Regions from separate parts of the Homo sapiens genome. Here regions 2, 3 and 4 are each linked to region 1. Evidence: fine-mapped expression QTL. A gene starts in region 1. Each other region holds a variant in brackets. All regions are shown on one strand. Distances are between the middles of the regions. Region 1 holds the start of TBL1XR1 (TBL1X/Y related 1). Region 2 has its middle 36 kb from the start of TBL1XR1-AS1. Region 3 overlaps TBL1XR1 (TBL1X/Y related 1). Region 4 overlaps TBL1XR1 (TBL1X/Y related 1).

Evidence for each region. PIP is the estimated chance that this variant, and not a neighbour inherited with it, causes the effect.
Region 2: its variant is the best candidate, but not a certain one, in a credible set for the expression of TBL1XR1 in tibial nerve (GTEx, PIP 0.56).
Region 3: its variant is the best candidate, but not a certain one, in a credible set for the expression of TBL1XR1 in thyroid (GTEx, PIP 0.62).
Region 4: its variant is the best candidate, but not a certain one, in a credible set for the expression of TBL1XR1 in T cells (TOPMed, PIP 0.76).

The regions. Positions count from the first base shown.
Region 1 is chr3:177,193,292-177,201,176 of GRCh38, reverse strand. It overlaps TBL1XR1 (TBL1X/Y related 1), which reads left to right and starts at 3,695. Exons shown (of 16, transcript NM_024665.7): 1 at 3,695-4,056. RefSeq lists silencers at 3,104-3,483, 3,724-3,913, 4,024-4,123, 4,604-4,653 and enhancers at 3,101-3,608, 3,609-4,118, 6,887-7,477.
Region 2 is chr3:176,997,238-177,005,122 of GRCh38, reverse strand. No RefSeq gene overlaps it. Among named protein-coding and RNA genes, the nearest start is that of TBL1XR1-AS1, 36 kb to the left of the region's middle. The variant T/C (reference allele first, on the strand shown) is at 4,032.
Region 3 is chr3:177,028,138-177,036,022 of GRCh38, reverse strand. It overlaps TBL1XR1 (TBL1X/Y related 1), which reads left to right. Exons shown (of 16, transcript NM_024665.7): 13 at 1,698-1,825; 14 at 2,887-3,052. Among named protein-coding and RNA genes, the nearest start is that of TBL1XR1-AS1, 5.3 kb to the left of the region's middle. The variant G/A (reference allele first, on the strand shown) is at 3,385.
Region 4 is chr3:177,086,151-177,094,035 of GRCh38, reverse strand. All of the region lies in intron 2 of TBL1XR1 (TBL1X/Y related 1), which reads left to right. Among named protein-coding and RNA genes, the nearest start is that of TBL1XR1-AS1, 53 kb to the right of the region's middle. The variant G/T (reference allele first, on the strand shown) is at 3,390.

The DNA of each region.
Region 1 (7,885 bases):
CCTCCCAAAGTGCTGGGATTACAGGTGTGAGCCACTGCACCCGGCAAAACAAGTCAGGATTTGTTTAGCCATTTTACAATATATAGTAACTTCTGATAACAGTTACTGGTATGAGGTTTCTCTTCATTGAGTAATTAGCTAGAAAATTCAAGAGAGAACTTTTTTTTTTTGAGACGGAGTCTCACTCTGTCGCCTAGGCTGGAGTGCAGTGGCACTATCTCGGCTCACTGCAACCTCCGCCTCCAGGGTTCAAGCGATTCTCCTGCCTCAGCCTCCCAAGTAGCTGCGATTACAGGCACCCGCCACCACGCCCGACTAATATTTTGTATTTTTAGTACAGACGAGGTTTCACCATGTTGGCCAGGCTGGTCTTGAACTCCCGACCTCAAGTGATCTGCCCACCTCAGCCTCCCAAAATGCTAGGATTACAGGCGTGAACCACCACACCCAGCGGAGAACTTAATGTGTTCCTTTGCTTTACAATTTCTTAGTAATACAGTAATATCTCCTTTCTAGAAACACATTAACATTTAATTCAAAGTGTAATGGGAGTGTTAGATTAGGACAAAGTACTGAATATTAGTAACAATAGTTCCTTCTTTGTCCTTTCCTCACCCAGTGAGTCTAATCATTGCTTGTATTTTGGTGCAGCCCTGATCCTTTATGCTGGATATGTTGGGACAGCTAGAGGGCGAGGCGACAATACATATGACCTTTGAGTGATGGTTTATTTCTCTGAGTATTTAACATTGAAGCCACACTGTTGTTTCAGATAGTTTCCAGAATATAAAAATCAAAGGGATCAAAATATGATCTGATTTAAAACCCCCTTTGCTGGAAGAATCAAGGCCTTTCCACATTTGGGTGCCCCTATTTTTGTTTGTTTGTTTAAAAACACTCCAGGCTGCCGGGCACAGTGGCTCACGCCTGTAATCCCAACACTTTGGGAGGCTGAGGCAGGCAGATGACTTGAGGTCGGGAGTTTGAGACGAGCCTGACCAACATGGAGAAACCCCATCTCTACTAAAAATACAAAATTAGCCAGGCGTGGTGGTGCATGCCTGTAATCCCAACTACTCGGGAGGCTGAGACAGGAGAATCGCTTGAACCTGGGAGGCAGAGGTTGCAGTGAGCCGACATTCCGCCATTGCACTCTAGCCTGGGCGACAAGAGCGAAACTCCACCTAAAAAAAAAAAATGTACTCCTGCTCTCTCCTCTCTCTTCAATTAGTATGATCCAACAGTGGTGAGTAAAGTACATTTTACTGCAACGGATTTGTAAGTCCCCAGCCTCGATGATCTTCATATTTAAATGCAGTCATTTACGCACAGAAATGTCTTGTAAACTACAGGGATATAAACAAATGCATGGATTATTATCATTGTGAGGAGGCTCAACTAACACTGAACAACTTTAGGAGGCAGCTTGGTGTAGGGTATAAGAACTTCAGGCTGGAAGACCTGATCCTATGAACCTGAAGGAGGGTGTCTCCTCCCTTGTGGAATAAGGGATAGAAGTCATTTAGGGGAAGGAGAAGGGGTGGGGTGGGCAGCTTTGAATATGACGCTTTAAGAATGGTATGGTTGAGAAGTCCTCACTCACTGAAAGTGGGGTTTGATTTTACAGTCACTGCTGTATGGAGAGGACCCGCCCGTGGTGGCACAATATGAAACTTAAAAAATAATCTAAGCCAATAGATATGTTTCATTGAGTGGCTCCACCGAGATAGTTTACTTACTGAAGACAGGGTATGTTTAGTGATATCTACGTCATTTATCAACTCAAAAAAAAAAAAAGGAAGATACTATATACTCTTTTCAATTCTGAAATAAAGTCTTCTGAAAGGTGTTAGTTCTGAGGTAAACAAGCCTCAGCTTTAGAATCCTATTGAAATGCAAAACTTGCTTTGTGCGGTTTCCCTGTACACTCTGCATAGTGTTTTGGAAACCTGCAGTTATCTAAATTCCCATCGGGTGACATTGTTTAATCCAACATTCCCACTTTCATACATGAAAATAGCTCTAAGGACACACCACTAATATGCTTTGAACTCTCTGGTGGTTGGAAGGGAGTTTCCAATCCCACTCCCTTTCCTCTGATGGTTTTCCTGCTCCCTGCCCCACTAGGTCATTCAGGAAAGGCCTCTGGCAGCTCCCCCAAGCAAGGGCTCAGGGGGGAAAGAGACATTGACCTTGGCCAAGAAAGCACCTGTCTAATTACTGAACTTATTAGGCCACCAGGAGTCCAGACTGGTGCAAGTTACGAGTAGTGTGTGTGTGTGTGTGTGTGTGTGTGTGTGTGTGTGTGTGTCGCAAAACTTCAGGTTTCTGATATTGAGAGGAAATGATGGTTGCTTTAAAGTGATCACTACATCTATTTTCAAATATTCTGATGAAAGTAGGAAAACAGAACCCTTCACCTTTAAGAAAGCTGCAAACATTATTTTGCTTTGAAGGCAGTAATAAGCGAAATAACAAAAAGGTTTCAAGTCGTATCTTAATGTAAAAGGGTGGCTGCTTCTCCAGTCCTGAGCTTATACAAAGCTCTAAAAAGCACCCTACCCCATCTTTCTGAAAGTCTTAGAAAGATTACCACCCCATTTGCTTTAAAACCTGTGAGGTGCCTCCCTTCTTTAAAAACAACCCTCCCTCAACCATACTGCCACATTATCACTCATCTAAGTTATACTTTATAAACCGCCTTGCTGTGCTTCACACATGCAAAAAGTACACAAAGTGGATAAACTTCTACTGTGGATGCCACTGTGCAGGTATATATTTAGTAAACATTTAGTTACATTATTTTATTTTTGTGAAATAAGAACTGATCGAGCAAACCTTTCAAACAGACCCACCAGATGATAAATACCACCATATGCTTGATTCACAGTACATTTGGGCATAAATACTTCAATTACAGCTTTGTGTTTAGTATCAAAAACCTTTTCTTGTGTGCGTGTTTTCTCTCCAGATCCCGTGCTCTGGATCACATTTTGAAAGTCGCTTATTACAGATAAAGCACCTTTCCAGGTACGCTTCGGAGAACCATATGTATTTACGCACACAAAGGTGTTCACAGAGATTTTCACAAACAAATGTCCATATGATGCCGCGCCGCACTCCCCCACATGCCCGCCGCGTGTGCGCCCAGCCCCCAACGCCGCCGGGCCGCCCCCCGGACACGCGGGAGCCCGCGGCGTCCTTGGGGAAACTTCGCCGGCGGCTCCACCCCGGCCACCGCGCGGGCCTCCCCGCCCCCACCCGTCTCGGGCCCAGCGGCCCACACCCGAGCACACCCAGGCCGGCCCGCGGCGGTGGGGGCGGGGCGGGCGGCCCGGGGCCCCGAGGCGCCTTCGAGTGCCCGCGGGGCTCGCCTGATTTTTAAAAGAATGCGCCGCACAGCCCAGCCCCCAGTGCCGCCAGAGCGGGCCGGGAAGGAGAGGAGCGCGGCCGCTGGAGCCCCCCCGCCGCGCCGCCGCCGCCTCCCGGCGTCCGCGGCGCCCCTCCCCCGCCGGCCCCTCCCCCGCGCGCCCGCCCGCCCGCTCGCCCGCCCGCCCGGCGCAGGCCGCTCGGGTTTGTTTTGCTGCGCGGCCGCCGCCGCCGCCGCCGCCGCGGGCCTCGCGAGCTCATTTGTGCCTGGCTGGTCCCCATTCCTCTCTCCCCAGTGTTGAGTGTCTGAGCCGTTGGCTGCTCCGAACCGTTTGGCTCTTTCCCTTAGTAACAGCTTTTACCTTCTGCCTCAATTCCTCTCCCCGCTCGCGCCCTTCCCCCGCGCGCCGCCTCCCCCCGCCGCCGGCCGCGTGCGCCCCCGCCCCTCCCCCCGCGGCGGGAGCACCTCCGCTCGCCACCTGGGGACCCGCGCCGCGCTCCCCGCCCCCGCCCGCCCGGCGCCCATCCCCCGCGCCCTCCGCTCGCTGGGGTTATAATTGCCTCTCACCCCCCGGAGGGGTTATTTTGGGGGTGGTTGGAGGCGGTGGCGGCGGCGGCGAGGAGGGGAATTTCCTTGTGCCTCCATTCCCGGGAGGGGGGAGCGGCGTTGGAGGCCACCGTTTCCAGGTAAGCGCTGGGGGCCGGACCCTGGAGTGGGGGCGGCCGGGGGCCTGGGCGGGGGGCGCGGGCCAGAGGCGGCCGGGGGCGCTGGGCCGCGGGGGGATGGGCGCGAGTGGAACATGCATTTTTCAACTTGGCCCTTGGGGGAACTGGGCTTGCGTGGGGGAAGGGAAGGCAGGGAGGGCACTTGGGGCGCCCCCATCCCCCCGTTTTCCTCTCTCAGGTTTCTTTGAAATGCTCACGTGCCTGCCCACCCCCCTACCCTTTCCCGGTCTCGGGGGATCCTCACCCTAATTATGTTGTCCCCGAAAATGTGCACCTCGGCCTTCTCCCCCTCTTCCTCCCTTCGTGCATTTACACCCCCTTTTTGTGCGTGTGTGTTTGGGGGGGGAGGCTTTCAGGAAAGGATTTGCAGCAAATTGAATCAAGGAGCCATCATGAGGCCGACTCCTTTATAGCCTATTTTTAGCAGAGGAGAAGGAGCTTTTCGGTGCATGCTATTTTGTGAAACCTCGGGCGGCAATGGAAATCTCCCCTCCCCGGGCGCGTCCCCGGCCCGGGCGCGGCGACCCCGGCCGGCGTGCTGGGGGCTGCGGGCGGCTGTTGGGGCCGCGCGTCCGGGGCGGGGGCGCCGGCCGGGGGAGGGGCGCGCGGCAGCCGGGCCTTGCTCCGGGACGTGTTTATTTGTAACTTAGTGCTTTTTATCGTCTTAAGGAGGTATTTGGTGGAGGCTCTTTGAAGTTGGGTTCAGGAGTGTAGAATTGGCAAAGTTATTGCCAGCTTCCTGGTAAGTTTTGGGTGGCACAGAGTCACGTTATTTTCTGACAGTGTAAAGGCCACGTTGTGAGGGTGGTTTCTCGGTAACTTCCTCTTTGCAACCGATTTAATTTTTTGAACAGAAGCAGACTTTTATTTAAGTGGAATATTAATCTTAAATGGCAGCTCGAGGGAAGCCATGCATGTGTTAACGTGTTCAGTATTTTTGGAAGTTCTTAATTTGCTGAAACAGGCATCACTTCGCAGTGGCAACCGGGATTAAATTTAGGTTGTGAAAATGGTGTATTTCATGTAAAATTTGGGTTGTGGCTTTTAAAAAATGCTCTCTTTGTTAGGTTATCTAAGTGTCTCTAAGATAATTTGGTGATTACAAATGAGAAATGTTGGAAACTAGTTAAAAATTAGGTGTTCTCAGTGTCTGGAGTTTACTTGAAATCTTGGACTGTGCAGGCACCAGGGGTGAAGAGTTTTAGTACCTATGTGATTTACAGTTGACTTAGGAAAGTTTACTATTCACTTTCTTGTTTTCCAAACAGGAACCGTATGCTGATCTAAACAAGCTTGTTAATAAAATGTGGGGGGTGAAAATGCCAGGTTATTTTTAGTTTGAATTTTAAGACTGAATGGTTGCTCTACCCCCCACCTCATATAATTAAGTGATCTTCCCCCTCCGTTTTTCCTAAAGGCTTCTTCACCAGTTTGGATAATAAGGCCCTCGTGGTGTGTTCATCTACTTACCTGAAATAACTTGGAATAAATAATTTCGATTACACGTTGAAGATACAATGAGTGACTGTTTGGGTTTTCCAGTGTGATTCATTTTCATTTTTGTTAAAATAAGACCCATGCTACATTGATGTATTTTAGTAATGCCGACTTCCTGGGATTGTATGTTCTCACCATTTTAATAGTTTATAGTCTGGGGAAGTAGGGCACCTTTGTCTCCCCGAAAACATGGTGTGGGTTGGGTGGTATCATGGGAGTTGATGGCAAGCTTCCCAAATAGTTGAGAGTTCTAGAAATAGTTAGCATTTACCTGTGGGGGAGGGGCTGCAGGAAGAAAGTATGCCTGAGAGCAGTTAGGCGTGTGATGTGTGATTAGGCTTCTTGCTCTTAAATCCAGGTTTTCTTGTTTGGAATATGATTTTTTTTTTCAACCCTATCCTGCACTGAGATGTATGTAATCGCAATCATTAAATTCATAAATAACTACTATTTTTTTTGACGTTTGAGTTGTTGGAATCCGACCTACAGGACAAAATACTAAACTGTATGGGGGACGAAAACTACGTGCCTGGGAAAAGTTTTTCTTATTGCTAAGGAACTTAATAAAGTGACATGTTAATGGCATAAAAATTGTTGCAAAGCTCACCGTCAGTTTATGACATTTTTCTTTTAACGTATACCAGCTTTGGGTATTAATGTGGGAGACACTGGTGGTAAATGGAGTGACCCCTTGCAGAGATGATATTTTTGCATTGGTTGCTTCAAAGAAGTGTTAAGCATTTTAATACGTATGTCTAAGAATCTTTTTGATATTTGTATTCTCGACACCTAATTAAAGGTTTTGCATGATTACCATGACACCAGTCTCCCGAAAGAATTAGAGGTAACTGCTTCCTGTGTTCTAGGAGCCTTTCAAGCTAACAGAAGGTAATATAAATATAAGGGGTACTGATAAAAGGAAATGTATTAATAGACCTTTTGAACATCAACTTGTTGATTAAATCTATCAGTGCAGTATATATACAACCTTGTCAGACGAGTAGCTGACAAAGGAATCTCCCTAGTACAACTTGTAGCAGTACTATTATAAAGAATTCCTGACTTGACACATTTTGATGAAGTTGGTTGAAATAATTTGTTGGGTTTGTTCAATTTTTGGTGTCATTTATATAAAAAGAATAAAGAAGAATGTGAATGGTAGGAAGTCAGGGGAGAGGCATGGCAGAAACATTGGTATTCACTAGAACTTGTATTTTTCTAGTGCATGTGAATTGGACTCATTTCACAAATAACATTTACAGTATAAGTCACTGAAATGCAAAAAAGGAAAGCAGCTAACACGAGACATTTATACTTTATGCTCAGACATTCTGGTAGTAGAGGAGGGCTAGGACCCTAGAGCTGTGTAGTAAAGAATTGTTGAGTATCGTTCAGTTTAGGTACCACGAAGGTGGTATCTCCTGCTCTGCCACCAATAGAAACTTGAAGTTAAAAAGAAAAGACTCTGAGAGCGCTGATGCTGGAGAGATTTGGCTGTTTACCCCTCTGGGATTGGATTCGGTAAGAGTGCAATTAATTGCCCTGTAACCATAGAGCCAGAGGAGAGGGACTAGGTGCTCCGGGCTATGCTCTAGGAGGTGTGAGGTGCTTTCTATGCTGTTTATACCCTAGGCTAATCCTATGAGGTAGATAGTGTTGGGCTTTTTTTGTGGATGATGAAACAGAGATGCAAAGAAGTTAATTCCCTTGTTCAAGGCCACAAAATTATTAAATGAACACTAGGATTCAAACCTGGGTCTGTCTTAGATGACTGAATCTGCGGAATTTTCCCAGCTGTTTTGTTAGTCTTGATCCGTGTAGATCATCCTTCCAAAAACTTGTGTTTCTAATCAAGTTTATGATCTATAGTTGAGCGTCTGTACTAAATGGGTCGAGTGATTACATGGGTAAATGAAATTGATAGAACTCATATCATTGTGCTGAATTCCCTAGCACCATTTAATAAGATGCAGTCTTGCTGGGTGCAGTGGCTCACGCCTGTAATCCAAGCACTTTGGAAGGCCAAGGCGGGCGGATCACGAGGTCAAGAGATTGAGACCATCTTGGCCAGCATGGTGAATCCCCGTCTCTACTAAAAATACACAAATTAGCTGGGCGTGGTGGCGGGTACCTGTAGTCCCAGCTACTCGGGAGGCTGAGGTGGGAGAATCGCTTGAACCCAGGAGGTGGAGGTTGCAGTGAGCCAAGATCGCGCCATTGCACTCCAGCCTGGGCGATAGAGGGAGACACCCTCTCAAAAACAAACAAACAAAAAATTTGTGTAAGAAAAATC
Region 2 (7,885 bases), 200 kb after region 1:
TTGTGGTATACAATTTGATGGGTTTTGATAAATGCATAGAGTCATTTACATATCAACCACCAAAATGCCATAGAGCAATAGTTCCATCACTGTAAAAATTCCTGTGTGTAGCCACTTTGTAATCATCACCACTCTTTCAACCCTCAAACAATCATTGGTCTATTTTCCACATAGTTTTGCCTTTTATATGTTGTCATATAAATGAAATAATGTATAGCTTTTTAAATCTGGCTTTTTTCCATTTCTAAAATGGATTCATGATTCATTCATTTTGTTAGATTAATCAATATTCATTCTTATTGCTAATTACTTCTCCATTGTATGGGTATATCACAATTTATCCATTTACTTGTTGAACATTTTGGTAATTTCCAGTATTTGGCAGTTATGGATAAAGTGGCTATAAACATTTATGCATAGGTTTTTGTGCAACCAAAAGTTTTCAGTTTACTTGGGTAAATGCATAGGAATGGGATTGAGAGGGAGGTTGTATAGTATATATAAGTTTAACTTTATAGGAAACAGCCAAACTGGCAAAGTAGCTGTACCTTTTTTTTAATTCTCATCAAAATTTAATGAGAGTCTGTTGCTCCACATCCTTAATAACATTTGTAATTGTCAGGTTTTTTTAGTCCATTCTAATAGGTGTGTAGTGGTATCTCAATGTGGTTTTAATTTGCATTTCCCTAATGATTAATAAAGTTGACTAAGTTTTCATGTATTTACTTCCCAGCCATATATCTTCTATGGTTCAGTGTCTGTCCAGAACTTTTGCACATTTTTAAATTGGAATTTTTTTCTTTTTTCTTTTTATTGAGCTTTGATAGTTCTTTATATATTCTGGATACAAGTCCTTTATCAGATACTTTTTTTTTTTTTGAGATGTAGTCTCACTCTGTTGCTCAGGCTGAAGTGCAGTGGTGTGATCTCGGCTCACTGCAACCTCTACCTCCTGGGTTCAAGTGATTTTTCTGCCTCAGCCTCCCAAGAAGCTGGGACTATAGGCAGGTGCCACCACGCCCGGCTAATTTTTGTGTTTTTGGTAGAAATTGGGTTTCACCATATTGGCTAGGCTAGTCTCAAACCCCTGACCTCAAGTGATCCACCCACCTCAGCCTCCCAAAATGCTGGGATTACAGGTGTGAGTCACTGCACCCAGCCTGATTTTTTTTTTAACGGTGTTTTAAAAAATTATTTTATTTAGAGACAAGGTCTTGCTCTGTTACCCAGTCTGGTGTGCAGCAGGGTGGTCATAGCTCACTGCAACTTGGAAGGCAACACTTGCACACAAGTTATCCTCCTGCCTCAACCTCCTGAGTAGCTGGGACTACAGGTGCATGATACTACACCTGGCTAATTTTGTAATGTTTTGTAGAATTGAGGTCTCGCTATATTGCCCAGGCTGATCTTGAACTCCTGACCTCAAGCAATCCTCCTGCTGTGGCCTCCCAAGGTGCTGGGGTTACAGGTGTGAGTTACCATGCCCAGCCTTAATGGTGTCTTTCAAAAAGCAGACATGCTTAATTTTGGTGAAGTCCAATTTATCATTTTTAAAGCAATCAGCATTTGGTGTCATATCTAAAATATTTTGCCTAACCAAAGTTCACAAAAGTTTTCTCTTATGTGACTTATGGATTTCAGTTTTACTATTAGGTCTGGGATTCATTTTGAGTTAATTTTTGCATATGTTGCAAGATATGGCTCAAAGTTCATTTCTTTGCACATGGATATCCAATTCTTCCAGCACCATTTGTTGAAAAGACTATTCTTTCTCCACTGAATTGCCTTTGCACTTACTTTGTCAGATTTATACTTAAATATTTTATATTTTTTTGTATAGACAATACTGTTGTTCTAAAATTACAGTTTCTAGTTTTTCACTGCTGGTACATAGAAATCCAATTTATTTTTGTATATTGACCTTCTATTCTGCAGCCTTGCTAAATGTACTTATTTGTTCTGATAGCTCTTTTGGGGTTTCTCTGGAAGTTTCTATACAGATAATAATGTCATCTGTTGATAGACATAGTCTTATTTCTTTCTATAATCTGCATGCCATTTAAAATACTTTTTTTTGTCATATTGTACTGAATAGGACTTCTAGTATGATATTGAATGGGAACAGTCAGATCTGACATCTTTAAATTTTTTTCTGATCCTGGAGGATGAGCATTCATTCTTTCACCATAACGTATGATGTTACCTGTAAGTTTTCTCTAGATGCTTTTTGTGAAGTTGAGGAACTATTGTTTCTAGTTTGTTGAATATTTTATTACAGATAAATGTTGAATTATAAATGCTTTTCTTACATGCATCGAGATGATCATATGGTTTTTCTTCTTTAGTCTGCTGATGTAGTGAAGTATATTGACTAATTTTTGAAAGTGGAACCAAGCTTATATTCCTGGGATAAACCCCACTTGCCCATTATGTACTGTCATTTTTATATGTTTCTGGGTTAATTTGCTAATGTTTTGTTCCAGGTTGATGAAGAATGATGTGAAGTTTTATTTATTTACTTTGTAATGTCTTTGGTATCAGGATAAGGCTGGCTTCATAAACTGACTTGGGTAGTGATCCGTCCTATTTTAACTTCTGGAGGTTTGTGTGTACTGTAATTGGTATTAGTTCTTCCTTAACCACTTGGGAGAAATCACCAATGAAGCCATCTCAGCCTAGATTTTGTTCTGTTGGAATGTTTTTAATCATGAATCTGTTTCTTTAGAAAATTTAGATTATTCATGTTTTCTATTCTTCTTTCGTAGTTTGTGCCTTTGAAGGAATTTGTCAATTTGCCCAAGTTTTTGAATTTATGAGCTAAGGTTATTTGTAATATTAACAATATTATCTTTTTAATGTTTTTAGGGTCTAATAGCTACTTTTTCAATACAAAATTGGTATGGTGTCCTTCCAATATTGGTAATTCGTGTCATCTCTTTAAAAATTTTTTCAGACTGCTAGAGGTTTATTTGTCCATTTTATTGCATTTTTTAAAGGTTTTGAGTTATTTTCTCTATTGTTTTCTATTTTCAGTTTGATTAAGTTTCTGCTCTTGATTATTTCATTTCTTCTGCTTGCTTTAGGTTACATTTGCATTTTTTTCTAGTGTCTTAAGGTGCAAGCTTCAATCTTTGATTGGAGGCTTTTTGTTTGTTTGTTTGTTTTAATGCTATACATTTCTTTCCTTTCTTTCTTTCTTTTCTTTTTTTTTGAGACAGAATCTCCCTCTGTTGCCCAGGCTGGATTGCAGTGGTGTGATCTCAGCTCACTGCAGCCTCCGCTTCCTGGGTTCAAGCTATTCTTGTGTCTCAGCCTCCCGAGTATTCAAGCAATTCTCATGCCTCAGCCTGCTGGGTAGCTGGGACTACAGGCATGCGCTGCTACACCTGGCTAATTTTTGTATTTTTAGTAGAGATGGGGTTATGCCATGTTGGCCAGGCTGGTCTTGAACTCTTGACCTCAGGTGATCTGCCCGCCTCGGCCCCCCAAGGTGCTGGGATTACAGATGTGAGCCATCATGCCCAGCCTACATTTCCTTCCAAAGACTGCTTTAGCTATATCACACAGCTATTGATAAGGTGTGTTTTTATTTCCATTCAGTTTAAACATATTTTATAATTTTCTTCGTAACTTTTTGCCCAATGGCTCTTTTTGTAATGTGGGGTTTTTTTACATTTTTATTTTTTTTTAATTTTTAAAATTTTGTTTAATTAAAAAAAAGAGACAGAATGGTACTGGTATAAAAATAGGCATATAGACCATTGAAACAGAATAGAGAACCCAGAAATAAAACCCAAATACTTAACAGCCAACTGATCTTTACAAAGCCAACAAAAATGTAAAGTGGGGAAAGGACACCCTTTTCAACAAATGGTGCTGGGATAATTGGCTAGCCACATGTGGGAGAATGAAACTGGATCCTCATCTCTCACTTTATACAAAAAACAACTCAAGATGGATTAAGGACTTAAATCTAAGACCTGAAACTGTAAAAATTCTAGAAGATAACATTGGAAAAACCCTTCTAGACA[T/C]TGGCTTAGGCAAGGATTTCATGAGCAAAGACCCAAAAGCAAATGCAATAAAAACAAAGATAAATAGCTGGGACTTAATTAAACTAAAGAGCTTTTGCAGGGCAAAAGGAACAGTTAGTAAACAGACAACCCACAGAGTGGGAGAAAAATCTTCTCAATTTATACATCTGACATGGGACTAATATCCAGAATCTACAGCGAACTCAAACAAATCAGTAAGAAAAAAACAATCCCATCGAAAAGTGGGCTAAGGACATGAATAGACAATTCTCAAAAGAAGATATACAAATGGCCAACAAACATATTAAAAAATGCTCAACATCACTAATGATCAGGGAAATGCAAATCAAAACCACAATGTGATACCACCTTACTCCTCCAAGAATGGCCATAATAAAAAAAATCAAAAAACAGTAGATGTTGGTGTGGATGTGGTGATCAGGGAACACTTACACTGCTGGTGGGAATGTAAACTGGTACAGCCACTATGGAAAACACTGTGGAGATCCCTTGAAGAACTAAAAGTAGAACTACCATTTGATCCAGTAATCTCAAATCAGGGTATCTACCCAGAGGAAAAGAAGTCATTATATGAAAAGGACATTTGCACACACATTTTTATAGCAGCACAATTCCCAAATGCAAAATCATGGAACCAACCCAAATGCCCATCAATCAACAAGCAGATAAAACAATTATGATATATATATGATGGAATACTACTCAGCCATGAAAAAGGAATGAATTAATAGCATTTGCAGCAACCTGGATGAGATTGGAGACTATTATTCTCAGTGAAGTAACTCAGGAATGGAAAACCAAACATCGTATGTTCTCACTGATATATAGGAGCTAAGCTATGAGGACGCAAAGGCATAAGAATGATACAATGGACTTTGGGGTCTTGGGGGGAAGGGTGGGATGGGGGTGAGGGATAAAAGACTACAAATAGGGTGCAGTGTATACTGCTCAGGTGATGGGTGCACCAAAATCTCACAAATCACCACTAAAGAACTTACTCATGTAACCAAACACATCCTGTACCCCAATAAACTATGGAAAAATTTAAAACGTTTTTAAAGTTTTATTTTTAAAATTTTGTTTAATTAAAAAAAAATAGAGGCAGGGTCTCCCTATGTTGCCCAGACTGGTCTTAAACACCTGGGCTTAAGAGATCCTCTCCCTTGGCCTCCTAAATTGCTAGGATTACAGGCGTGAGCCACCATGCCCAGCCATAATGCATTGTTTGACTTCCAAATATTTGATTGTTTTCCAGATAGTTCAGTTTTTGATCTTTCACTTAATTTTGTTGGGTTTAGAGAACATACTTAGTATGGATTCAGTTCTTTTGACTTTACTGAGGTTTGTTTTATTACCCAGAATGCAGTGTATCTTGGTGAATATTCCACATGTACTTGTAAGAATGTGTATTCTCCTGTCTTTGGAATGTTCTGTCAGTTAGGTCAAGTGGCTGACATCCTAGCTGATTTTCCATCTACTTATGCTATTGATTAATCTGAGAGGAGTGTTGGCGTGTTTGAGTAAAAGTCTGGATTTGTCTATTTCCCCTTTCAGTTCTATCATTTTTTACCTCATGAAGGCCTTTTGTTCAGCACATACATAGTTAGGATTCATAGATCCTATGCAACAAGTAAGTCCTTTTTGCCTCTATATCCTCAGACTCATTTCAAAATTACTAACTCATGATAAAAAAACCATTGGTGTATGAGAAAGAATATTTAAGTTGGATTGATCCAGAAGCCCTGGCCCACTGCCACTTCTCTGCCACTTAGTAGCTGTGGCAAAATCTTTTGCCCTCTCTCATTTTCCTCATCTGAAAATAATTAGGATTATAATGCTTACAAGATTCATAAGAGAATAAATACAAAGTAGACTTGGAAAATATTTGTTACAGAGAAGGGACCATTAAATATTTGTTGAACTTAATACTTGCAGATTCTGTCTGCTCTCTCATCTTCATCATTGCTCTCTCTACCCTCCTCTCTCTGCTGTGCCAGGGAGCTTGCAATTTCTGTTTCTCAGACTCTCTTGTTATCTGTATTCCTGGTAAGTTCTGCTAAAAGTGGAGGTACCAGTGGGAGAATGGAATCTTGGAAGAAGACAGAGCCAGTCCATTTTTTTTTACAATCTACTCTCTCAGGCAGTGGTGCAGCCGCAGTGGAGATTTCATACATGAAAATGCTGAGACTGAAACTCAGGTGTTCTCACTACAAATTTTGCAGTGTTTCCCCAATATCCCATGTATTCATTTTCTATGACTGCTGTAACAAATTACCACAAATTTATTGGCTTAAAATAACCCAAATACATACTGTTCTATAGTTCAGAAACCCAAATGGCTCACACTGGGCTAAAATCAAGACCAGACTTATTTACTCTTGCTAAATATGTCAAAGCCAACTAATTGACGAAATATAATTTAAGCTTGGCCTTTTATTATATTCTGTAGCTGAAAATCCAAGGCTGGACTGAAAAATCAGCAGAGCTGTATTTCTTTCTCCAGTCCCTAGGGGAGAGTCCATTTCCTTGCTGTTTCCACTTCCAGAGGCTGCCCACATTCCTGTCTCTATGTTCGTAGTTACCAAAGTTGAGTTGAGTCCTTCTCACACTGCCATCTTTCTGGTTCTCCCTCTGTCTACTACCTCTGTCTTAACTTTTAAAGGATCCTTTATTTACCTTAGGCCTACCTGGATAATCCAAGATAATCTGCCTATTTCAAGGTCAGTTGACAAACAACCTTAGTATTTCCCTTTGCCATGTAGTATACTGTGGAGTCTAAAGCAACTCCATCTGGGATGCTAATTATCCATGTTGGCTTCTGATTAACTCCACTTCCAGGAAGGCCTCTAAGGTTTCCAGTGTATCTGTACCTTGTGTAAGGGCAGATACTTAATGTAAATGAGGCCCTTAGATCAAACAACCTTGATGTTAGTTAATTTCCATTGTCCTACATATTCCTTCTAACTCACTCTTTCCTTATGTTATATAAGTCTGGGGGATAATGGTATGGGGATCCACCATCTTATCTCACCACTGCCTGAGACACAAATATCGCTTCTATTCATAAGTCCCTATTAAATGTTTCTTTCTAAGAAACTAGATTTGTCAGCCACTTTCTTCAGCCTGTCAGCTTCCTTGGGCTTTGGGGCAGGTCTGCACATACCATAATCACAGGTTCCAAGGATTAGGATGTGGACATATTTAGGTAGAGGGGTCATAATTCTGCCTACCACACCCTCACTGTATCTCTTTTTACAATAGCTAAAGAAGATGAAATATTGGGAGGGTGCGGTGGCTCACGCCTGTAATCCCAGCACTTTGAGAGGATGAGGCAGGTGGATTGCCTGAGGTCAGGAGTTTGAAACCAGCCTGGCCTACATGGTGAAACCCCAACTCTACTAAAAATACAAAATTAGCCGGGCATGGTGGTGCGTGTCTGTAATCTCAGTTATTTGGGAGACTGAGGCAGGAGAATTGCCTGAACCTGGGAGGTGGAGGTTGCAGTGAGCCAAGATCACGCCACTGCACTCCAGCCTGGACAACAGGAGCAAAACTCCATCTCAAATAATAATAATAAAGAAGATGACATAGTGAAGAATCCAGGGTTAGAAGTCACTCTTGCTACAACTATTAAGCAACTATTGTTATTGCTGGATAATATTAAGCGATAATAAGCTATACCCACTTCTTCACTACATTCTGGCTAGCAATGTTTTCATTGTCTTAGGAAAGGCATATGGCAGAGCAGAAAGCAGAAATATTCTCTAAGTCTTTCTGAGTTTTGCTACTCAAAAACTCAAGTCCTTAGGAGGACTTGGTGGATTTTTTTGACA
Region 3 (7,885 bases), 170 kb after region 1:
CATATAATATTAAGACTAACCTTTGATGTGCCATGGGTGCTTAAGTGCTTTTTACTTGGGAAGTCCACAATGTCAGTTACCCTCTAATGGTGTTGACTCAAGCCTTTGTGAATTAATCTTACTGAATAAATTTGAGTCTCACTAGCGGATAGGGCCATGGTCGCAACTGTTTACAGAACTCTCCAGGGAGTCTGTAAATGGCTCGGACACCCTCAGCTGGACTGGCGAAACAGGATATCTGTGTGTTAGTGTACTTTATTCATCCATTGCTGGGTCAGGGTCTGCAGGCAGACACCCACAGCTAGTGCCCCCATGTTGCCACAGCTCATGCCTATAATTAAAGCACTTTGGGAGGCCGACGTGGGCAGTTCACTTGAGGTCAGGAGTTCAAGACCAGGCTGGTCAACATGGTGAAACCCCATCTCTGCTAAATATACCAAATTTAGCCGAGCGTGGCGGCAGGTGCCTATAATCCCAGCTACTCTGGAGGCTGAGGCAGGAGAATTGCGTGAACCCGGGGGACGGAGTTGCAGTGAGCCAAGATTGTGGTGCTGCACTCCAGCCTGGGCAAGAGAGTGAGACTTCATCTCCAAAAAAAAAAAAAAAAAATTGGGGCAGGGACAAAACTGTGTAGGTAGTACAGAGTAAGAAAAGAGGGGACCTAAAAAAGTGAGTCTTAGAAACTCTAACAATCACCAAATCAAGAGGGATGAGCTTTCCAAAGGAAACTGAGAAGGTGACTGAGAAAGTGGAAAAAGAAAGTATGTAGAGGAAACTTATTTCAAGGGAGGTAAGAGTTGAGAGTGGCCAACAGTATCAAATTCTATGAATTAGAAAGGTCTAATGAAATCAGTTCTGAAAACATGTCGTTCAGATTTATTTTACTTGGGGTTGTAAATACATAGGGCACCAAAAACACTCTGATGCTTCATTATCTTTTAATGGTTATGTCACGGAAATGTAAAGTTGAGCTGATTTTTTTCTTGGTTGGCCCTCCTTGGGTTTGGCATGTTGTATGTGTATGTGTTAAGGAGATAACTGCAGGACCTACCATGTCTTTATTGAGTGATTTTTTTTTTCCCAGAAATACTCTTCGTGTTGATTTCTATGAATTTTTGCTCAAAAATAATAGTCACTTGAAATCTATACACACAGGCATATTTTCATCTCAGGAAAGGCTTATTCTCTACTTTGACTACTTTTTTCTACTTTTTTTTTTTCCTACTTTTCATTTGAGCTTTATTTCCTATGCTACTTTTTACGGTTCTCTGTGAGTCCTCATTATTTATAAGTTGGTTATTTATTTTCAGTTCTCCATTGTAAAATTTTCCTGATTCTAAAATTCTAAGAGCAGTTTATTATGTAGATCTTTTGCTTAAGGGACAGTGTAAAAACTGTGCCTTCAACATTTTAGGATCGTTAACTAATCTCAGAACAACTATAGTTAATTCAGTCTTCAAACTTTGTAATAGTGAATATTTTTAAAGGGCTTAAAGCTAACTTTTTTTTTTAAACAGAGATGTAAATATTAAATATATCCTATTGCATTTCAGTTTCTTTGTAAATATTCTATCATCATTCTGGTTATATCACTCATGTTTTAGACTGTCCATATAATATTTTAAGTGTCAAAATAATATTTTAAATATACTCATTGTATGGAAAAATAATTGTATACATTTTTCTTTTTTGTTTAGATATGGAGTATGAAACAAGACAATTGTGTCCATGATTTGCAAGCACATAATAAAGAAATTTATACTATCAAATGGAGTCCAACAGGACCAGGGACTAATAATCCAAATGCCAACCTTATGTTAGCAAGGTGATACTTCTGTTTCATTTTTCCTTTTATGAGTCTTCTACAAATCAGACTTCCAATAGATATGACAGAAGTTTAGGGAAGATTTCATGAAGTGGAAACTTTTTTTTTTTTTTTTCCAATTTCAGTAGTTTTTGGTGTATAGGTGGTTTTTGGCTACAAGAATAAATTCTTTAGTGCTGATTTCTGTGCACTGGTTTTGCAAGCAGTGTAGTGTACCCAGTGTGTAGTCTTTTATTCCTCACCTCTCTTCTCAGCCTTCTCCCCACTCCCACCTCCAGTCCACAAAGTTCATTATATCATTCTTATACCTTTGTGTCCTCATAGCTTAGCTCCCACTTACAAGTCAGAACATGATATTTGGTTTTCCATTCCCGAGTTATTTCACTTAGCATGATGGCCTCCAGCTCTATCCAAGTCACTGCAAAGGACAATATTTTATTTCTTTTTATGGCTAAGTAGTATTCCATGGTGTATGTATACCACATTTTCTTTATCCACTTGTTAGCTGATGGGCACTTACGTCGGTTCCTTAAGGGGAATCTTTAAACACTGAGTTTTATTATTGTTTCAAGTTATAATGATATTCTATATTGAAATAATCAAATATTGACTGATACCAAATACTGATTAAAATCCAAGCAATTGAGGCATAGCAAAATCTTCAGTATCTTTAGAAAAAAAAAAGATAAATGGAAAAATGTGGTCACTTTGGTGTTCAAAACCATGCGAAAGAGGGATTATTTAGACAGAGAGGAATACAGTAAATGAGCACATTTACGTTTTCTACTCCTGGACTTGGGAGATTCCTTTAAGTTGTTTTTTTCGCTTGTTTAGCTTTTAATTTCTAGAACACTTGCTCTTCTTTCTAAATTTCATTTATTTATTATTTTCTTGTCACTGACTTGAAGATCACAGAATATTCTTCCTAACAGTCCAGTCGGTCTGCTTCTCATAAAGAATTTTGGCTATTAGATTTGGCTGAATATGGGAGGTTGGGTGGGAGCAAGGCTGGGGGAGTATTTCCTTACTTATAAATTAACTTTCTTTCCTTCCTTTTTCAGTGCATCCTTTGATTCTACTGTTAGGTTATGGGATGTAGACCGAGGGATATGCATCCATACCTTGACAAAACACCAAGAGCCTGTGTACAGTGTAGCTTTCAGTCCTGATGGCAGGTATCTGGCAAGTGGTTCTTTTGACAAATGTGTACACATCTGGAACACGCAGGTATGTCTTCATTATTTAAATGGTCAAGTGCTCTTAAATTTAGGTAGAAGCATTTGCCTATACACTCTGCCTCACCATTTGGTTGTCATTCCTCTTGTGGCATTAATTGAATTATTGGTTTTAAAATAAGATAGAAACTAATGGAAGTTATATCTTTATGGAGACTGGAATTTTGAAATGGATTTTGATCATTTGTTTTATTATTTATTATTGTATTCTTTTGTTTTTTTCCAACGGTTTTGCAGATATCAGATGTGAATGTTTAAGATGTATTTATTTAGATAAATGACAGATTTTATTTTTCAAAATAGTTGTCTCCGAAGGAGCTATAT[G/A]TGAGCAGTAAAAGTCAAAGGACCAGATTTTATGGCTGAATGCAATAATTTATGAGAAAGAAACTTACAACTACATTACCTTTTCAGGTAGTATGTATGGTGTTTCAGAGATTCTTAGAAGTGGAGAAAACAGTCTGTTGCTTTCAATTTTTTAAATCTTCTCAATGTTTTAGTTTTTTGCTCTATGTACTATACTTTTTTAATAGCAGTCACTGAACTCACCCCTCTCAGTTATCGGATCTTTGTTGGTTGTAGTGCACACATAATAAGTTGTTATGGTGTATTTCTCTTTGTGTAGGTGTCCGCCACCATGGTTCATTTCACAAATTAATTTTCATCACTTACTTTGAAGATTTTTAAATTACTTCATACATGCATACAGTTCAGAAAAAACCTCAAACCTTGTATAAAGGTATACACTGAGAAACTTTGTTCCTCTCCTGCTGGTAACAATTTTTATTAGTTTTTATTTCTTCCTAGCTTCTTTATGAATAAAAGCATTGTGCTTCTTCCATTTTACACTACTGCTGACAATATAAAGTAATATTTTACCGCACAGTTCAATCCATTAGTGATAAATGGTATTTCAGCATAGTTTTAAATTTGCATTTTCTTATGAATGACATTAGGAATCTTTTTTTATATATTTAAGCACACTTGTTAATTTTTCTGTGAACTGTTTGATCATGTTTTTTCCATTATTTTCAACTGGGTTATTCATTGTCTTTGATTTCTAGCAGCTCTTTATAGACTAAAAAACTAAACCCTTTGTAATGTGGTTGCAGATTTTTGCTAGTTGAACAAATGATTATTAAGCCTGAATCTTACATTACATTTTAATAAAATTTTTTAATATTTATTTTTGTTTTTCTTTAAATAGAAACGGGATCTTTCTATGTTGCCTGGGCTGGCCTTGAACTCCTGGGCCCAAGGGATCCTCCCACCTCAGCCTCCCAAAGTGCTGGGATTACAGGCATGAGCCACCATGAGCCTTCTAATAAAATTTTAGGCTGCACATGGTGGCTCATGCCTGTAATCCCAGCACTTTGGGAGGCCAAGGCGGGCAGTTCTCTTGAGGTCAGGAGTTCAAGACCAGCTGGTCAACATGGTGAAACCCCATCTCTCCTAAAAATACAAAAATTAGCCAGGTGTGGTGACATGTCTGTAGTCTCAGCTACTCGGGAGGCTGAGGCAGGAGAATTGCTTGAACCCAGAAGTGGAGGTTGTAGTGAGCCAAGATCACACCACGGCACTCCAGCCCGGGCAACAGAGTGAGACCCTGTCTCAAAAAAAAAAAATAAAAATTAAGTAAAAATGTTCTGCTTTAATTTTTATTATTACTTCCTTACCTCTACTCCCATATTTGCTGTCTTTATGAATATATGCCTATGTTGGATATATTCTGTAACTATGATATATATGCCTTAAAAACTCTTTCCTAAATTTTAGTTTAACTTTGTGTTTGTGGGAAGACACTAATCATACACCCAGCTAAACTTTATTTTTCATTTTTATTTTTATTTTTTGAGATGAAGTCTCGCTCTTGTGCCCCAGGCTGGAGTGCGATGGCACGATCTCGGCTAACTGCAACCTCCACCTCCTGGGTTCAAGCGATTCTCCTGCCTCAGCCCCATGAGTAGCTGGGATTATAGGTGCCTGCCACCACACCCGGCTAGTTTTGGTATTTTTAGTAGAGATGGAGTTTCACCATGTTGGCCAGGCTGGTCCCAGACTCCTGACCTCAGGTCATCCACCCGCCTTGGCCTCCCAAAGTGCTGGGATTACAGGTGTGAGCCACCATGCCCGGCCTCACCCAACTAAACTTTTTAAAACTGAACAACAGTTACAGAGTTGATGAAAGTGAATCTAAATCTAAATAATATCATTTCCATGTATATTCAAGTTAGTATTTGTTCATTTTCACTTTTAATAATTATACATTTCAAACAGAAAATAATATAACACTCATATATCTACTGCTCAGATTTAATTGATAAGAACATGTTGCCACACTGTTGTGAATCTCTTCCTTCCTATTTTTACCTGATAAAATGTTATAGATACAGATAAAGTGTTCACCTCCATTTTCCTCTTCCTTCCTAGAGGCTATAGCAATCCTGAAGAGAGTGCCTGTCATTCCCATGATAAATGATATATACTACTATTTTCTGTGGTAAAATTGTAATTAATCATGCTGTTGTGAATCTTCTATTGTATGTCTTTTCAAGCTAGTGTTTTTTACCACTTCTTTGAAATATCACATTAATACTTGTACCTCTAGAATGATTATTTATTTAGACTATTCCAGAGCATTATATGAATATATTAATATATTCATTAATAATATATTCATAATATGAATATATTAATTTTCAAATTTATTTTCCTATTGGGGGATTTAAAAATGTACAACATTGCTGGAACATCCATCCACGTTTTCTTGTGCACATGAATGAAAGTTTCTCTAACGCTTCTCTGTGTGTGTCTGTCTCTCTCTCTCTCTCTCTATATATATATACACACACACACACATACACACACACACCTGTGCATAGCATATCCTGTAAGTGGAAGTCATGGCCCATACGGTATATTTACGTGCTTGTGCCTAACTGCTCTTCAACGTGCATACACCCATTTACATTTCTAATCACAATATTTAGGATTTCCCATTTTCCTTTATCTTTAGGTTATCAGACTGGTGAACATTTTTCCAATTACATGGATATGAAACATTTTGTATTTGCATTTTCTTGATTGTCAATTAGTTTAAATATCTTTTCAAATAGTTATTATACAGTTGGACTTTAGCATTTTAGTTCACCACCACCACCACAATTTTTCAATTGTTTTATATTCTGTACTGATTAGTGTTCATTATGCATTCTGGGTACTAATCCTTCCTGGTTATATGGATTCCAGTGATCTCCCAGTACCTTCTTTTTTATTTTCTTCATGTGGAGTGTTTATCACGTAGAAGTTTTGTGGGGTTTTTTGGTTGTTGTTTTGTTTTGTCTTGAGATAGAGTCTCACTATGTCGCCTAGGCTGGAATGCAGTGGCAGATCAAGGCTTACTGCAGCCTTGGCCTTCCTGGGCTTAGCTAATCCTCCCACCTCAGCCTTCCAAGTAGCTGGGATCACAGCTGCATGCCACCACACCCCACTAATTTTTGTATTTTTCTGTAGAGACCGGGTTTTGCCATGTTGCCCAGTCTGGCCTCAACCCCCTAGGCTCAAGGGATCCACTTGCCTCAGCCTTCCAAAGTATTCCTGGGATTACAGGCATGAGGCATCACGCCCAGATCATATGAAAGTTTTTAATGTTAATGTTTAGATGTATTTATCTTTCTTTTTAAAATTAGTTGATTATTTTTAGAGATAGGGTCTTGCTGTGTTACCCAGGCTGGACTCCTCAGCTCAAGAGATCCTTTGACCTCAGCATTCTGTGTAGCTGGGTCTACAGGCACATGCCACTGTGCCCGGCTAGATCTTTCCTTTTTGATAGCTTTTTTTTTTTTTCATAGCTTAATACATTTTTCCTTATAGATATCACTGAGGTCTGATATTTTTTCATGAAGTATCTAAGTTTTATTCCTTTACATTTATTTTTTTAGCCCCTTTGGAACTGATTTTTATATATGGTGTGAGGTATAGATATTTCCATTTGGGTAGTCAGTTGTCTTAGCACCATTCATTGTCCCCTTTCTGTTTTCATAATGCCGGTTTCATATACCTAGTTCATGTATATGCAGTTTGTTTATTACCTTCTCTTTTATTCCATTTACGTATTTGCCTTATCTGAATCAATAGCATAGTTTTAATAATTCTAACTTTATAAATCCCTCTTGTTGTTATTCTTCAAAACTGTTTTTCTGTTCTTGCCACTTTAGTCATCCATATTTCCAAAACAGAGCACACAATTTTGGATTTTGTTTATGAGTGCCTTGAATTTATAGGTGAAATTAGGGAAAATCGTTATTGAGTTTTATCACCCATAAATACGTTATACCTCCATTTATTTGTCTTTTATTCCTTTGGTAAAGTTTTATAGTTTCTCTAAGGATCTTTTTTCCTAATGTGTTTTGAGGTGCCTTATGGTTTTTATGTTACTATGAATGACCTCTTTTAAAAAATACATTCCTTTTATATACTAGTTGTTGCTCACATTTAGAACATTTTCAGTGAACTCATTTAGTCCATTGTGACAAAATCAATTTTAATGAAATTTGGGCATAGAACTGTAGAGTGCTAATGGAAGATACTACAAGACATTGAAGGGCATTTGACCAACTGTTCATATTATTTTGTTTTCACTATTGTGTACCAAAAGTCTTACTTTTTCAAACTTTGAAAATAGTAAAACAGTGAATTTTCAGTGCAGGAGAAAATCATTATCCTATTGTTGTATATACATCCAGGTTTTTTGTTTTCCCCTTTCTTGTATGATGAGTTGCCTAAGCATTTGATGAGTAAATTGTAGAAGTCTTGTGCCAGCATACAT
Region 4 (7,885 bases), 110 kb after region 1:
GTTTACTCTGCTGATTGTTCCTTTTGCTATGAAGAAGCTTTTTAGTTAATAATTAAGTCCCATCTTAATTTATCTTTGTTTTTGTTGCATTTGCTTTGGGGTTCTTGGTCATGAAGTCGTTGCCCAAGCTAGTGTCTAGAAGGGTTTTCCCAATGTTATCTTCTGGAATTCTTATGGTTTCAGGTGTTAGATTCAACTCTTTGATCCATCTTGAGTTGATTTTTGTATAAGGTGAGAGATGAGGATACAGTTTCCTTCTTCTACATATGGCTTGCCAATTCTCCCAGCACCATTTGTTGAATAGGGTGTTCTATCCCCACTTTATGTTTTTGTTAGCTTTGTCGAAGATCAGTTGGCTGTAAATATTTGGCTTTATTTCTGGGTTCTCTGTTCTGTTCCATTGGCCTATGTGCCTATTTTTATACCAGTATCATGCTGTTTTGGTGACTATGGCCTTATAGTATAGTTTGAGATCAGGTAATGTGATGACTCCAGATTGGTTCTTTTGGCTTAGTCTTGCTTTGGCTATGTGGGCTCTTCTTTGATACCATAGAAATTTAGGACTGTTTTTTGTACTTCTGTGAAGAATGATGTAGTATTTTGATGGGAATTGCACTGAATTTGTAGATTGCTTTTGGCAGTGTGGTCATTTTCACAATATTGATTCTACCCATCCATGAACACAGGATGTGTTTCCATTTGTTTGTGTCATCTATGATTTCTTTCAGCAGTGTTTTGTAGTTTTCCTTGTAGAGGTCTTTCATCTCCTTGGTTAGGTATATTCCTAAGTATTTTATTTTATTTTTGCAGCTACTACAATAGCTGTAAAAGGGTTTGAGTTCTTGGTTTGATTCTCCACTTGGTTGCTGTTGATGTATAGAAGAGTTAGATTTGTGTAAATTAATTTTGTATCTGGAAACTTCGCTGAATTCATTTATCACTTCTAGGAACTTTTTGGAGGAGTTTTTAGGGTTTTCTAGGTATACAATTATATTATCAGCAAACAGCAACAGTTTGCCTTCCTCTTTACCGATTTGGATGCCCTTGATGTCTTTTCTTGTCTGATTGCTCTGGCTAGGACTTCCAGTAAGTACTATGTTGAATAGAAGTCATACCACATATTCTTTATCCATTCATCTGTTGGTAGACATTTGGGTTGCTTCCACCTCTTGGCTGTTATGAATAGTCCTGCTTTGAACATGGATGTGCAAATCTCTTTGACATCTTGATTTCAACTCTTTTTAGAACTGGAATTCTTTTTGGGATCTCAGAAGAGGGATTGCTGGATCATATGGTAATTCTAGGTTTTTTTTTTTCCTTGAAAAACTTCTGTACTCTTTCCAGAGCAGCAGCACTATTTTACATTTCTACCAATAGTGCAACAGGGTTCTACACACTGGACAACATTTGCTGTTTGTTTGCTAGTGCCCATCTTAATGGATGTGAGGTGCTGACAATAATTTCTTTACACTACCAACTATCTACTTAGCTTCAATTTTTCTGAACTGCTCCTAATATGTTTTTACAGAATCAACAAAACTTATACATTATGTTTGGTTACTGTGTATAGTTATGCTTCTACCTATTTTTTCCCTTTTATTTGTCCTGTGAAGTTTTCTACATTCTGTATTTTATTAATTGGATTCCTGTAGTATAATGTTCATCTTTTCCTTATATTTTCTGTAAATTGGTGGTTATAGCTAAAGGCTTCATCTAATGAATTAAGATTAATCTAATCTTAATTTAGGTTTTTTCCTTTATTATTTTGGGAGGTTGGGGTGGCAGAATATTTCACAGGTGGTGCTAAGTATAGATGGAATACCTCTAATCTGAAATGCTCCAACATCTGAAATTTTTTGAGCACTAACACGACACTCAAAGGAAATACTCATTGGAGCATTTTGGATTTCACATTTTCACAATGGGAGCGCTAAACCGTTATACTGCAGATATTTCAAAATCTGAAACACTTGTAGTCCCAATCGTTTTAGATAAAGGACACTTACTGTATGCTTGCATAAGGAAGCACCCAATGTTTGTTTTTTATTCCTGACAGTAGGCGACATTGATGATCATTCCTAGAACCATTATTTCCATGAGGGCAATGAGAATGTTCATATTCAATTATATCAAGCTTTTATTATGTGTAACATTTCTATAAAGAGAAACTTTCCCCAACAGATATTTCGTTACTTTGTGGCACAGATTGCACAGGAAAGGCATATGAAATGCATGATTCTTTCTTTTATTTACCAGTTTTCAAAGTACTGAGTTGTTTCCTGGAAGCCTTTCTAGTATTCTTGAATACCTTTCTAGGTAACAAGTGAGGATTTTTTTGAGTTATTGTGAGCGTGTGGATTTAGGCATTTGATATGTTTTATTGACTGTAGTTTGTATTCTTATTGATGTCATTCCCTTGGCCAAAAGAGCCTTTTCAAGTTGACTTCTGAGTCTTTTCTGACATGACTCTAGTATTGTCTCTCTGGTAGCTTCCTTGCTTTCTGACAAAACAACATGTTGGCCAAAGCTCATCTTGTACATGTCCTTCATTGGTCCTCAGATCAGCTATGTCTCTAAAGTCCTGATTCCTTTTAGTGAAAAAGAATATTTATATATTTATGTTATATAATATGCAATAGTTAATATGTAAACATAATAGAAAATAATGTATTAAACAAAAGTAGAGTATAAATGACATATAAAGTACATGTACTTTATAAGTACTTTAAGTACATGTAAATGTAGAAAATAAACATAATATAAAATTATACGTATTTTTATATTTATAAATGTATATTTAACCAGTATGAGTAGTGACTGTTGTTTTCATTTTTCTCTTTTTGTCCACGTCTCAGTGGGATTACAGCTAAGTATTACGTTTTAAAGTAAGTCCTCATGTGTAATCTGCCCCCCTGCCCACCTCCAATTTGATATATAGTTGGGTCAGCTTGTCCCTCCCCTCCCCTATCTCCCCAATTCCTGCTCCCATTTCCCTTTTCTTCTTCCCTTCCCCTCTCCCTCTTTTCTTTTTCTTTCTTTTCTTCTTTTCAGCAGGGTGTCACTCAGTCACCCAGGTAGGATTGCAGTGGCCTGATCATGATTCACTGCAGCCCCGACCTTCTGGGCTCAATCGATTCTCCCACCTCAGCCTCCCAAAGTAGCTGGGACCACAGGTGCATGCCACCATGCCTGGCTAATTGTTTTAACTTCTATTTTATTTTATTTCGAGACGGAGTCTCGCTCTGTCGCCCAGCTGGAGTGCAGTGGCGTGATCTTGGCTCACTGCAACCTCCGCCTCAATTCTTCAAGTGATTCTCTTGCCTTGGCCTCCTGGGCAACTGGAACTACAGGTGCGTGCCACCATGCCCAGCTAATTTTTGCATTTTTAA[G/T]AGAGACCATGTTGTCCAGGATGGTCTCTGTCTCCTGACCTCGTGATCCACCTGCCTCAGCCTCCCAAAGTGTCTTGATTACGGATGTGAGCCACTGCACCCAGCTGATTTTTTTTTTTTTTTTTTTTTAGTAGAGACAGTGTCTCCCTGTGTTGACCAGGCTGGTCTTGAACTCCTGGGCTCAAGCACTCCTCCTGGCCTCAGCCTGCCAAAGTGCTGGGATTACAGGCCTGAGCCACTATGCTGGGTCCAGGCCAATTTGTTTCATTTTATTTTTAGTATTTAGAATTTAAAAATATTTGTTTTTATTTTGTTTTATAATCATAGGAAACATTTATATCACTTCAAAGTGAGATACATTCTTACTTCCTCCTTTTGTAAGTAACCAAGTTTTAAAAATCAAACTATTTTTGGTTTATCTTGCTCAAATGTAAACAAATCCATGGGTATTCTTAAATATTCTGGAGATCACTTCATAGCAGGACATAGAGATAGTCTTTATTCATTGTTTTACAGCTGCATTCTACTCCATTACACAGATAGCTGTTTCAAGAGTGGAAGTTTTTAGATAGGAGCATGAAATGTGCATGTCAATTTGCCAGATTTCCTTCTGTAAAGCATTATGCCATCTTATGTTCCTTTCAGCAATATACGAGGTTCCCTCTTTCCCCATTAGCAGACAGTATATATGATGTCTTTTTTGATACATATATGTCTTTTAATCTGATAGGTGAGAAATAGTATTTCACTATGGTTCTAATTTGCATCTTTTCATTTATTTTATAACTGTTTGCTAGTTTATTTTAGAACTGTTTGCATATCTTTTTCTTTGAACTGTTCCACAGATAGATTCTTATTTTCCAGAAAAGTCTACCAACTGTGTCGATCAATCCCCTGAGCCCTTCTATTTCCTCTTGTTCTGTTTGTATAGTCATCCCACAACTTCTAAAAATTAATTTGGTTTAACAACAGGACTCTTCCACAAAGAATAGAATGATGCTGAGCAGTTCTCTTAGGTTTGATTCTTGAGGAACCAGACCCTTGATTATAACCCTTTATTGGAGAGGTGGATCTAGAAAGTTCCTGTGGAGAAGCCAGAAAGGGAAAAGGAGGCTGATACCGACTGCCTGAAAGACTAATTTTTTTGTTCAGTTGGACTCAAATCATGTGGCATCCTCGGGAACAGTGTAGAACATGTCTCTTTTTCCACCTAAGGGGCAAGGAACCTCGGGTAATTTGTCCACTAACCCCCATTCCTTAGTCTGGGAGTTAGGCAGTTAGGCTTTGCGGAGGGCAGGGCAGCAGCTCCTGACCTGCTGTTTGGCCTCAGGGTGCTTTGCAGTAAAAAGCTACCCAGCTGCTTGGGAAAGTTGAGTGATGAGGGAATGTGGGCTGGGCCCTGCTGGCCTCTTCTGCATTGATGAATATTCTGGTCTACTGACAGGTACATTTCTCAGTGTAATTAGTAAATCACCTCTTTTACTCATAAACCACCCTGCTGTATTTTGTTAACATATCTTCTCTCAGAACTTGATTATTCTTAAAAAACTGAAAGAAGTTATGACTTGCCAGACTGAAGACAAGACCCCAAGGAGTTGTGACCCTGCCAACAGGTCGCTGCCGAGAAAGAGTGTGGTACATAGCGAGGAGTCAATGATTATTACCTACTTATAAATGTAGCATCCATAAATTAATTTGTTCTATTTACTGTAGGAAAGTTCATTGTTACTTTCATTTTTAATCTTTTACCATCATGATTAGGAACTGGTATTATTAAATGTGAAGAAAGAAGGACATTGTCGCATGATATTGTGTGAACCATTTTCATTTGGTTGAGAATGTATGCCTCTGGAGAGCTGATTCCCAAATCAACAGTAAGAGGGTTACATTGAACACCTCTTAGTCTCTAGGCTTTTCTTTTCTTTTTTTTTTTTTTAAACAAATGAAGAAAAGCAGAGCACACACAAATTGGAGTTATATTTAACTGATTCCTTGTATCTTTGTCATTAGAGGCTGAAATAACTGAGCCTAAAATGGAAGCTGTGAAAGACTGTAGTATCACGTGAAAGGCAGAGAAAGCTTGGCTTCTTACATGGATTTAATCTTTACACAGGTTGAGCATTGGTTATCCAAAATACTTAGGACCAGAGTATTTCAGATTTCATATTTACTTGGATTTCGGAATATTTGCATATCTATAATGAGATATCTTGGGGATAGGATCCAAGTCTAAACACGAAGTTCATTTATGTTTCATATACTCCTTATATATATATAGCCTGAGGGCAGTTTTATACAGTATTTTAAATAATTTTGTGCATGAACCAGAGTTTTGACTGTGACTTGTCATATGAGATCAAGTGTGGAATCTTCTGCTCATGGCGTTATGTCACTGCTCCAAAAACTGCAGATTTTGGAACATTCTGGATTTTGAATTTTTAGATTGGGGTGCTCAATTTATATTAACTGTGATAGAACTTGTTATGGTGAATTACTATTTTCATTTTAAAACATTTTTCATGTTTCAAATAATTTTGCTGTCCTTTCTATAAATTCTCAGTGTAGGCACTATTCAGGAATAAAATACTAGCTGTCTTACCTCGAGAAACACAGAGTAGTGTGAGAGCAAGGACATATACCCACAATAGAGGGATAGATGTTTAACACGGTAATGTTAAAACAAAAGGTGTCCTATCACTGAATATTATCTGGCTTATTTTTAAGTTTTCCTAATTTTCTTTGGGTGTACTATATTAAATTTGGTCTTACTAGATTTTGACTATTTGGGGTTGGACAGCATGGTCCCATATAGCCATAAAATTGGAAACTGAAGGCCATTTCTTACTTCAATGGTGTATTGAAGCCATTTGAAGACTCCCCGCCCCCCATTCTTTTTTCCTTTCATTCATCCATCCGTCCAGTGGATAAGATTGCATGATTTAAAAAAAAAAAATTTTGCTTGAGACAGAAATTAACATGCTAAAGTTAGTGTGTAAAGGACAGGAACTTCTAGTTTCATACAGGTTCTGTTTGTTTGCTTCTTCAACTTCTGTCCTTTTTCTTAAGCCAGTTAATTTTAGTTATATCTTTTGATTTATTCCTGGTTCATAGAAACAGAAATCCTTCACCATGCCTATTTTCTCTCTTTTTCTATGATTTACTAGCACCTGTAAGGAGAGTTTTTAAAACAAAAAGGTTGGAATGCTAAAGTTCTTAATTCACAACCCTCTATATGTTAGGCCTTCATTTCCTGTCAGATGTTTATTGGGATCATTTTGAGTTTATTACAACCTGATATTTTTTAAAAAAGTGACTTAGAGCCTAAGGGCTTATGATTATAGAACAGATTACATAGAGGTACTTTAAACATGTAAGAGAAAAATGCCAAAAACCATTTTGATTAGTTTAATTTTTTTTTTAAATAAAAAAGTAAGTAAAAATCAACCCCAAAATGGAAGGGTTAGTATAGTTGACCCTTGAACAACACAGGTGTGGACTATGTGGGTTCACTTCTACTTGGTTTTTTTAAAAGTACAGTTGCATCTAGTATGCCTGCCTTTCTGCCTGTCTGTCCTTCCACCTCTTCTACCTCTCCCACCCCTCAGACAGCAAAACCAACTTCTCCTCAGCCTTGTGAAGAGGATGAGGACCTTCAGGATGATTCACTTCCATTTAATGAATGGTAAATATATTTTCCATATGATTTTTTAAATAACCTTTTCTCTAGCTTCTTTTATTGTAAGAATACAACATCTAATAGCTACAACATGTAAGGTGTGTGTGTTTATGTTACTAGTAAGACTTCTGGTCATAACTAGGTTGTTAGTAGTTAGGTTTTTGGGAAGTCGGAAGTTATATGTGGATTTTTGATTGGGTGGGTTGATAAAACCCTAACTCCTGCTTTGTACAAGGGTCAACTGTATATGTTCCGTGATAGAGAGTAGTTATCTTACTTAAATATTGTTATAACCATGTAAAGTTGTTAATATCTGTTTCATTGGTGAGAAAACCATTATTTTTCTTAAAAAAAAATTGTGGGCTCTAATTATAGTAGAGAGATGAAAATTTATTTCAGAAAAGAGACTTCCGTTGCTCCAACCCCATGTCATGTAACAGAGCAGACACTTTCATTACCCCCTGAACATACAGCTTGTGTATGTATGTATGTAAGACAGACTACCCATATTGAGACACCTTGGCCCTTCTTTTCTATTGGCTCCCCTCCCCCACCGTTTCATGTCTGTATTTAGACTTACCCAGTATGGTAACCACTAGAAATACGTAGCTGTTGAACACTTGGACATAAGACTAGTCAGAATTGAGATGTGCTGTAAATGTAAAATGCATGCTGGATTTTGAAGACTTAATTTTTTAAAGTAAAATATCTCAATTTTAAACTATTGATTATAAGAAATAATATTCCAGATACATTGGGTTACATAAAATATTATTATTAGAATAAATTCTGCCTGTTTCTTTTTAACTTTTTCATGTGG